Linked DNA regions of Homo sapiens. The protein of the gene in region 1 purifies or fractionates together with the protein of each later gene. This does not show direct contact. Each region holds a gene or a part of one and is shown on either strand. Other genes may lie near its edges.

What was found. The genes of interacting proteins can lie anywhere in the genome.
Region 2: the proteins of PYGB (region 1) and OLFM4 purify together in Homo sapiens (co-immunoprecipitation; one large-scale study listed by IntAct). This does not show direct contact.

What each region holds. Positions count from the first base shown.
Region 1 is NC_000020.11:25,274,765-25,279,832, reverse strand, and holds part of PYGB (glycogen phosphorylase, brain form), read right to left. Parts: intron 3,188-5,068; coding exon 3,076-3,187; intron 2,590-3,075; coding exon 2,507-2,589; intron 1,515-2,506; coding exon 1,371-1,514; intron 777-1,370; coding exon 684-776; intron 1-683. UniProt on the Homo sapiens protein: Glycogen phosphorylase that regulates glycogen mobilization. Phosphorylase is an important allosteric enzyme in carbohydrate metabolism. Enzymes from different sources differ in their regulatory mechanisms and in their natural substrates.
Region 2 is NC_000013.11:53,045,813-53,049,184, forward strand, and holds part of OLFM4 (olfactomedin-4 precursor), read left to right. Parts: intron 1-3,372. UniProt on the Homo sapiens protein: May promote proliferation of pancreatic cancer cells by favoring the transition from the S to G2/M phase. In myeloid leukemic cell lines, inhibits cell growth and induces cell differentiation and apoptosis.

The DNA.
Region 1 (5,068 bases):
AGCCTCACCTGGAGTGCACACACCCCAAGACCAGAGAGGGGCTTGGGTTTCTACAAAACGGAGTTAAAAAAAATCGTTTTATGGTTTCTTTTGGTTTTATTTTTCTGGGTGTGTGCTGCCACACCTGGCTTTTTTTTTAGAGGTGGGGTCTTGCTGTATTGCCCAGGCTGGTCTCTAACTTCCGGCCTCAAGCAACCCTCCTGCCTTGGCTTCCCGAAGCACTAGGATTACGGGTGTGAGTCACCACATTGGCCTGTTTTATGGTTCCACATGTTGATTTGGTAACGGTTAGATTAAGAAAATCCTACCACACAAACATATTTAAGTCCAAAATACACTGAATCGCGAGGGCAGGTGCATGAATAGAGCACAGACCTCTAAACACTTAACGCTTTGGGGAGCTGTCACCAAATTTCAAGATGAGAATGCACCAACGGGAAACCCTGAGAAGTGTCACAGCCCTATCCTTATCATCTCCCCCGCGCCCTGACCCCATACTCTGGCCCCCGGAACCTCCGTCTCCTGGAACCAGACCCCTCCCACAGCTCGCGTCTCTCCTGGGCATGATGACCACACAGCTCTCCCAAGGCCAGGGAAGAGGCCCCCCAGCTCAGCTCCTTGTAGCCCTGGTCTGCACGGGCTCCAGGCTCTGGGGAGGTGCCGCCCTTTTCCTCCATGCTCACCTTGTCCCAGTCCACCTTCTCCACGTCCACCAGGATCCGCATGAGCTCAGGGATGGAGAGGGCGGGGTGGGTGTCGTTCAGCTGGATGGCCACCTGAAGGTCGCACAAGGGGTGCCATTCAGTCATTTCATCCCACGTGGGCACCCACGGTTGTTGGCATACGAAGCTCCCCAAGTGAAGGAGCCAGCCCAGCCCACCCCACCCCCGAGAAGCCTGGAGAACAGGGAGGGGTTCTGTGGAGGGAGCAGGGAGGACAGTCGGGCTCGCACTGTGGCAGGTGTGCGCTGTGCCCGATGTGCCTGCTGGTGAGTGCCCTACAGCTGTGTGCTCTGCTGCGGGTATGTGCTGCAGCCGGAGGGGAGGAGCCGTGGCCACCGGGGCTGGGGGCTCTCTCACTGGAACTATAGGGCTTTGTTTGGAATAACCCCATTTAGCCTGCCCAGCACATCTGACTTTGCACAGGAGCCTTTCACCATGTCCCTTGCTGACCTGACTCCTAACAAGGCCGGTGGCCCTTGTTCTGGAAGGGAGGGCCCAGGTGGGATCCTGGCCCAGAATGACGAGACCCCAAGACAAGGGGCATGTACCATTCCACTCTAGCCCCTTTTGGGACATGAGAAAGCAACCTCAAGAGCCTGAAGGCGCCCAGCCCCTGGCACTGAGATCCCTCCCAGGGCCACCATGCACCTTGTCTGGGAACGTCTCGAAACAGGTTCTCACAGGGTCCCGGCAGCCGAACTTGGACGACTTGAAGCGGCGGATGATGTCCTGGAGCGTGGCGGCCACCACGAAGTACTCCTGCTTCAGCCGCAGCTCCTTCCCCTCAAAGAACTGCACACAGCAGAGCAAGCTGGAGGGTGCAGGCTGGGCCATTCTCCTCCCCCAGGAAGCCCAGGTCAGCGACCTGGCTCAAAGGTGCAGGCAGAAGGCCGAGAGGAGCCCAGCCCAGCTGCCTGACACTGGGGCCTGCCTGTGTGCCCTCAGGTCACTGAGGAAGGTAACCCCGCCTGTGGGACACACCCCGGGACACAGTGTCCATCCGTCAGAAGTACAGTGCCAGCGCTGCTCAGGAGCTGCACTGTCCAAGCACAGGCCTTCTGGAACATTCTGTACCTGGGGCTTGGGGTCTGCCAACAGTCTCATGGGGACAGGGGAGTGCACTCTTTGATGAGCCTTCCGGCACCCAGGCCTTTGCTCCTGTGTGCACAGGTTACTTTCATAAAACAAAAAGCTCACTTTTAAACATGCTCTGCCCACTAGGGCATCTTCTAAGGACTTGTCAGGCAACAACAACAAAAAGAAAGCCACTGGGCACTAAATGCAGGTGGCAGTGGGGAACATGGCTGCGACACCATCACCTAGTATGGGAAGGGCATGTGCCAAGGACCTTTCAAATGTCCCCAGGCATCAATGCCAAGTAGGCGCTACGGTCCCCTGGACAGACAGATCACCTGCTTGGGGAAGTGGCACTGCAGGCTAGAACAGCACACAGACTGGAGGGCTGACGGGCTCCAGCTGGCCCCAAGGAGCGGCTGTGTGTTTATGAGGGGAGTGGATAAGAGGGGAAGGTGGCAGAGAGTGTCCTCGGAGAGAGGACCACAGAGCTGCCAAGAGGCACACGAAGAGCCGCTTGGGCTTTATGGAGGACAGTGCACCCTCTCCTCCCCAAGGGCATCGTGTGTGCACCTAAGGCGAGAGGGCCACCAGGTGGCTGCTTGCCAAGGCCAACAGCAGGCCCCACTGGGGAGCCCGGCCAGCCAGCCCACCTCTCTATGCCAGAAAGCGATACGGCCTGAGCAAGAGTGCCCAGGCCAGCTACTCACGTTATCATTTGGATACAGGACCCTGGAGATGTTCTCAGCCAAGTTCCGGTCCAGGACCGCCTCGATGTAGTCTCCCACGTTGACTAAGAAGAAATGGAGCGGGGTCAACACACACATGCCTCCTGGCACCAGCACTGCAACCGCTCAGGGGCCTACTTGCAAAGGCCAAGGAAACTCGCTCGAGCACAGGACTCCCCCAGCCGCTGCATTACTTCCCCTCACCCCCATCCCTGGAGGTAAACGTGATCCCTCCTGCAGCTCCCCTATGTACCGCACACAACTCCATCCCCCTCACTCCTCCCCAGGGGCACATGATCTGCACAAGGTGACCCTGGGTGCCCAGGGCCCAGGTGTCTTGGTCGCTCTGCCTGTAGGCCCTTCCCGGGCAGGCCCCACACACAGGTAAGCTGCACCAGCCTCGCTCTTCACTGGGACGCAGGGACACCCTAGAGGAGGGCCGCGCGGCCTCCAGGACAGTGAGCCACAGGGCGCGGTAAAGGCTGTGGGCGAGGGTGTCTGGGACCAGCCACCCACATGGACACAAGGGTGCCAAGAACCACGGAACGTACAGTCCTGCAGCTTGAAGTCGTTGGGAGCCTTGGCGGACCACAGCCGCATGGTGTTGACGGTGTTGTTCTTGTAGCCGGGCACTGGGGTGTCGTAGGGCATGGCCAGCACCACCTGGCCACAAAACGGGTTGCTCAGGACGGAGTGGCAAGGGCCCCCGCCGGCCCCTGTGCCTCTCCCCGGCCCAGCCTCCTCCTGGGCACCTGGCGCCCTGCTGGCCCCCCACCGTCTCCCCCTTCTGCCCAAACACATCCACCCAGCCCATGCTCGGCACCACAGTCTCCGTCCACGCCCTCCCCTGTGGTGCCCACATTGTCATCCTGAGAGGACCACCCGTCCCACCACCCTCCCCAGACCAGACCTATCTTCTCACTTGACCTTCCTCAGGAATGGCTTTGACTGAAGAATCATCCCCATCCCGACTCCCTGAGGTGCTGCAGCACCAACCCCCACCTCCCTCCTTACCCTCTGCCCTCCGCGCCTCCCCTCCTCAGTCAACTCTGCTCTAGCAACTCCAACACGCAGATGCTTGCCCCGCAGATCACCTCTCTCAGCTCCACCTGCGGGAAGGTTGCTCCTGCAGCTGCCTTGCCTGCTACCCTCCATGTTCCCAGCCCCCCAGCACAAGCCCAGCTGCGCTCCCTCCACCCCAGCCTGGCTCCCTCTCTCCTTGACAAGCCCCCAGGTTCCCCTGCATCCAGAGACATCAGCTCCGCTACCACCAAGGGCAGGAGGGGGCTCACAAAGCTGAGGCTCACCTGTGGTCCCAGCTCCCCGGCAGGCGCACTCAGGGATGCTTGGGTTCATCCCGGCACACACGTGCCTGTGGCACTGCCAGTCAGCTCTGACAGCCACACAGGCGGCGCACCGGGGCCACCAAGACTAAAACCCCAGTATCCCTTTCCCTTCCTCTCTCCTGTCAACCCTTGCCCCTGCCCCACAAGGCGACACCCAAGTGAGCGACAAGTCCCCGCCAAGGCATTCTAGCCCCTTCCATCCTGGCCAGGCCTCGGGGCTAAGCCCATCTTCACAGCCTGCCTGGAATGTCCCGGTTCTCCAGCATCCCCACTCACACTGACATGCTCATCCACAAACACATCTACAGCGCCGGTCCCCTACCCTGCTCTTGCAAGTTAAATACAACTTTTCAGGGCATTTTCAGCCTCCATGGCATGGCCCCAGCCACTCGAAGCCCATGTATTTGATTTAAAACTGTGTCCTACAAAGTCAAGACAACTCCCTCTGCACACCAGTGACCACCCAGCCTCCAGGCTCTCCTGTTATTGCCCGTCCTTCTCCATCACAGGTGGCTGAGTCTCACCGATGCCCCCACGTTCTCCTGCAGCCTCTCCTGCCAGCCCCTGCCCTGCCCCAGTCATCCCGGCTTACAGCTGCCCGGAGCCTGGACTGGGTGCTCCCTCACGTGGCCTCTGCGTGCCTGGCACCCGTCGCTGCCGAGCACTCTAGGCTCTTGCCCTGATTCCCCATCAGCACCCTGCTGGGCAGGAGGGCCTGGCCCCATCCCCGGATGTCACCCAGGCCTCGCACACACTCCAGGGGCTCTGACAGTTGACGCTTTGAGAGCCATGGGCCACGTATGGCGCCAGGAGGCCAAGCGAGCTTGTCGTGTGCTCCACAGAGATAGTGGGAGCTGTTTTCGCCCACCCTGGGGGTCCGTGCCCCCATCCCATCAGAACACCCTCCTGCCTGCCCTTAAGCAGCGGGGTTCTCGTGAGCATCTGGCTGTGAGTGGACGCCCAGCTGCATTCTTAGCCCCAACACACAGCTCCTGCCCAGCGGGGCTTCCCCCATGGAGTCTCGCTGCTGTGCTCAGCGCTTCCACTGTTTGGGAAGCTCCCATCAAAGTGTAAGAGACTGGGGAGTGAGGAGAATAAACCTCCCCCGGCTTTTACCTTAAGTCCTCCAGGGAGGCAGCAAGCCCCCCAAGCCAAAAGAAGCTGAGCTGTCTACAAATGAGCCGCAGCAGCCCCCTCA
Region 2 (3,372 bases), on another chromosome or scaffold:
TCATAGAACTTTCTAATCTAAAATAATTGGCCTTCTACTCATTAACTTTTTTCCCTTAAAACTTCAGTCTGTCTCTGTTTTGCCTGTGAATCTAAATGACTGTATATAGGCCAAATGTGATCGGGTGCTCAGGGGTTGATCTCCAGTTTGCTTGGGGATGCAAGGTTCTGTGCTGGTCCATAGTGATGCTCAGTAAGTAGCTGATGATTAAATGGGGTCTGAAAGAAATGGGGTGACCTGCTAAAATCTCAAGCTTAGGGAAGAGCCACATGTTGAACAGCATATATCCAACACTTCAGAGTCAATTTAGTCTTAATCATTTTATGACTATGATTGTTTTAATTGCCTAATTCTTATAAGTCAATCATATTCTCCTCCTGGCTCAAACAAAGTTCAGTTGCCCAGTTGAGAGAGTGCATTAATAGATCCAAGACTAATTTTCCTCTGTAGGCATATAATTATTGGCTTCAAAAAAATGCTACTAACCATGATACTTTTAAAAAGCCAAGTCAGAATATTTTAAATTCTCATGATTATGGCTTCCTCAGGTATTTTCAGAGTACCATGGTGCCATCTAATGAATTGCATGATGAAGAGAGTGCCAACCAAGGCTAAACTTCTATAGAGGGTTCCTCAAATTATGTTCCATGGAGTAAATGCCAGGCTTTTTGAAAAACCAGATATGTAGCAGGGTAGAAGGCTAGTGTTTTATAAATAAGGGTAAGCTGAGTTTAGGTGACTTGATTAATCTTTCATTCCTTTATTCCACAAACATAATTTGGTGCCACTGTGTGGCTGGCCCTGTTCTGGGTACTGGGGTTACCAGCATGAGTAAAGAAACCTCCAGAAGCCACTATCTAGGAAATGAGACATCTAAACCTCCAGTTGTAACATGATGTGATTATATTGAGATATTTACCATTTACTGAGTAACATTTACATGTCTTCTCTGTATTTTTCGTAACTATTTTGCAGAGTTGGTATTATTTTTCTTCTGACATGAGGAAACTGAGGCTCAGAAGGTTAAGTAACTTGCTCAAGGATACACAACTACTGTTGGAATCAGGCTTTGAATTAGAATCTGTCTAGTAGTATTTTCCATACTAGGCTGCCTTCCATAGCTGCTCTAACAGAGAGGTGCACCTGTGATTTCTGGAGTGAAAAGAAAATTCCAACAACTCACCTATCTGCTTAACACCAAATTATTTTTGCTTCCTTGGTAGTGGAGTAGGTAAAAGGGTACTGTTGCTCCTGACAGTTCTGTGCTGTGTGTTCTCTTCCACCAGAAAATGCAAAATGATTCAATGGTCTTTCAGAATTCTTGGATCATGATTGGGCAATGGGCTGTTGCCCAAGTGTCAGGGTGAAATTGGGATGGAAACTGGGTATGAAGTATGGAATGAAGTATGTCTAAGACCTTGACATGAAGGAAGGGGCTGGCAAGGAGCATGAGATAAGGGAGGGTGGTGAGAAGCTCAGTGAAGATGGGATGGGGGGATGGGGACTCTGAGGAACAGTGGGCACTGGACTGGCTGTCAGTTTCAGTATCGTGTCCAAGATGGTTTGCTGCCAGGAGTCGAGGAAGCCCGCCATAGCATTTTTCCTGGTCTGACATTGTTGTGGCCACATTTGTAGCATTGGCAGCAATGTTGAGTTCTCATCCCCATTTCCACTTCCTTTCTACCACAGCCGGGGCCCTAAAAATAGCCCTTTATCCTTACCCATAGAGGATAAAAGGAGGATAACAAATGAACAGGAAAGTGTTTAGGAATGTTTGGGAGGTGAGAAAAACAAAGTTTCATACATTTTAATATTTACACTGGGCAATTTGAATTTTCTGGTCAACTTATGAAATGATGAGCCACTATTACTATTAGTAGTAGTAACAATAGTAATAGTACTAATACTATTATACTAATAATAATGCAATTAGTTTTATGATAATAGCAGTAGTAATAGTAATTTTTTGAGAAGTTTATTTTGGTTCCTTCATGTCTAAAAATTTCCACATCTGGGGACAGAATAGTTTAACCTCTTGGTAGTGCTTGAATAAGTTATATGCATCATCAATTTTCCTTAAATATTTTGTTGCTGTCGGTTTGGGATATTTTCTTTTCAGGAAGGCAAGACTCAATGAAGCAAACAATTATTGTCTTCCAACCTGAAAGAAAAAAAAGTGACTTTCCTCAGAGTGAAATGTAGTTAAATAAATAAGTTCTCAGGAAGATACTTTAGCTAGAAAATCCAGTTTGTAGCATATGGAAACTTGAACAGTTTTTGTTATCATTAAACTGAACACACCGCTAACTTTATTTTAATAATTCATGCATTGTTTCATAAACAAAAGCAAACAAGCATTCATCTGAGAGATCACTTTTAGTAGAAGAAATAATAATTTATAATTTTATTTATTATTTCTTCAGTGGAGAATAGTCTCTTGGCTGAAAACACGTTGCTTTTTTATTTATGAAATGGCACATGCATTATTAAAATAAACCTGTGACTGTGTTCTGCTTAATGATATGCAAAATTATTTGAGGTTGGATACAGAGTGGTTTCATTTCTCTACCTGTTGTATGGTTGGCTGGCTTTCTCACCAACTGTGGATTTATGAGAGCATTTAAGGAGCATATATTTAATTCTGGGACCAAAAAGCCCCAGCCGATTGGAAAAATAAAAACAGAATTTCTAGTAATGGTTTCACCTTTGAGCAGTCCTTGGGTGAGGAGGATGGGGAGGGAAAGCATTTAGCAAGGAAAGGAATGGGTCTTTCCATATTGGACACAGCAGAGACCCAGAGACAAAGGCTTTGCTCCCCCTTCCCCGCCTCCATGCTAATCTCAGGCAATTCTTTGGAGCTCTGCTTTTGGCTCCAGCTCACCTCATGTTCCTCAATGGCTCTCTGAGTCCCTGCAAGTATTTCAGGCCAAATCCAACAATTCAGGTTCTGCTCCTTTCCTGTCTCACCTGCTCTGCTCTGAGCAGCAGGACGAGGGAAAATGACCTCAAATATACTTGAAGTTGGGTTTTCTTTGTTATCCAATAAACCATCTCATGAGTTTTTTTGAGTGTTAAGATCCCAGAAAATGTGTGTTCAACTCTTTGGATAGTTATTATAAAAATACTGGAGGAACTTTATTTTATTTTTATAGCTCATAAACTCCTGGGATGGCAGGCATTTCAGCGGGAGTACAATGTGAAGGGTTGATCGCCCAGACTGAGTTATTTACCCAAGTGTTACAGGGAATGTAGATTCAGTGGACCAGTGAATCTTGTCCCACTTGATTGTACACATTGTGACAATGACAGTGTCTGGATGGAAAGATGAAATACTTGCATGTCATTCTATGGCACAATAGCATATGGGTTATG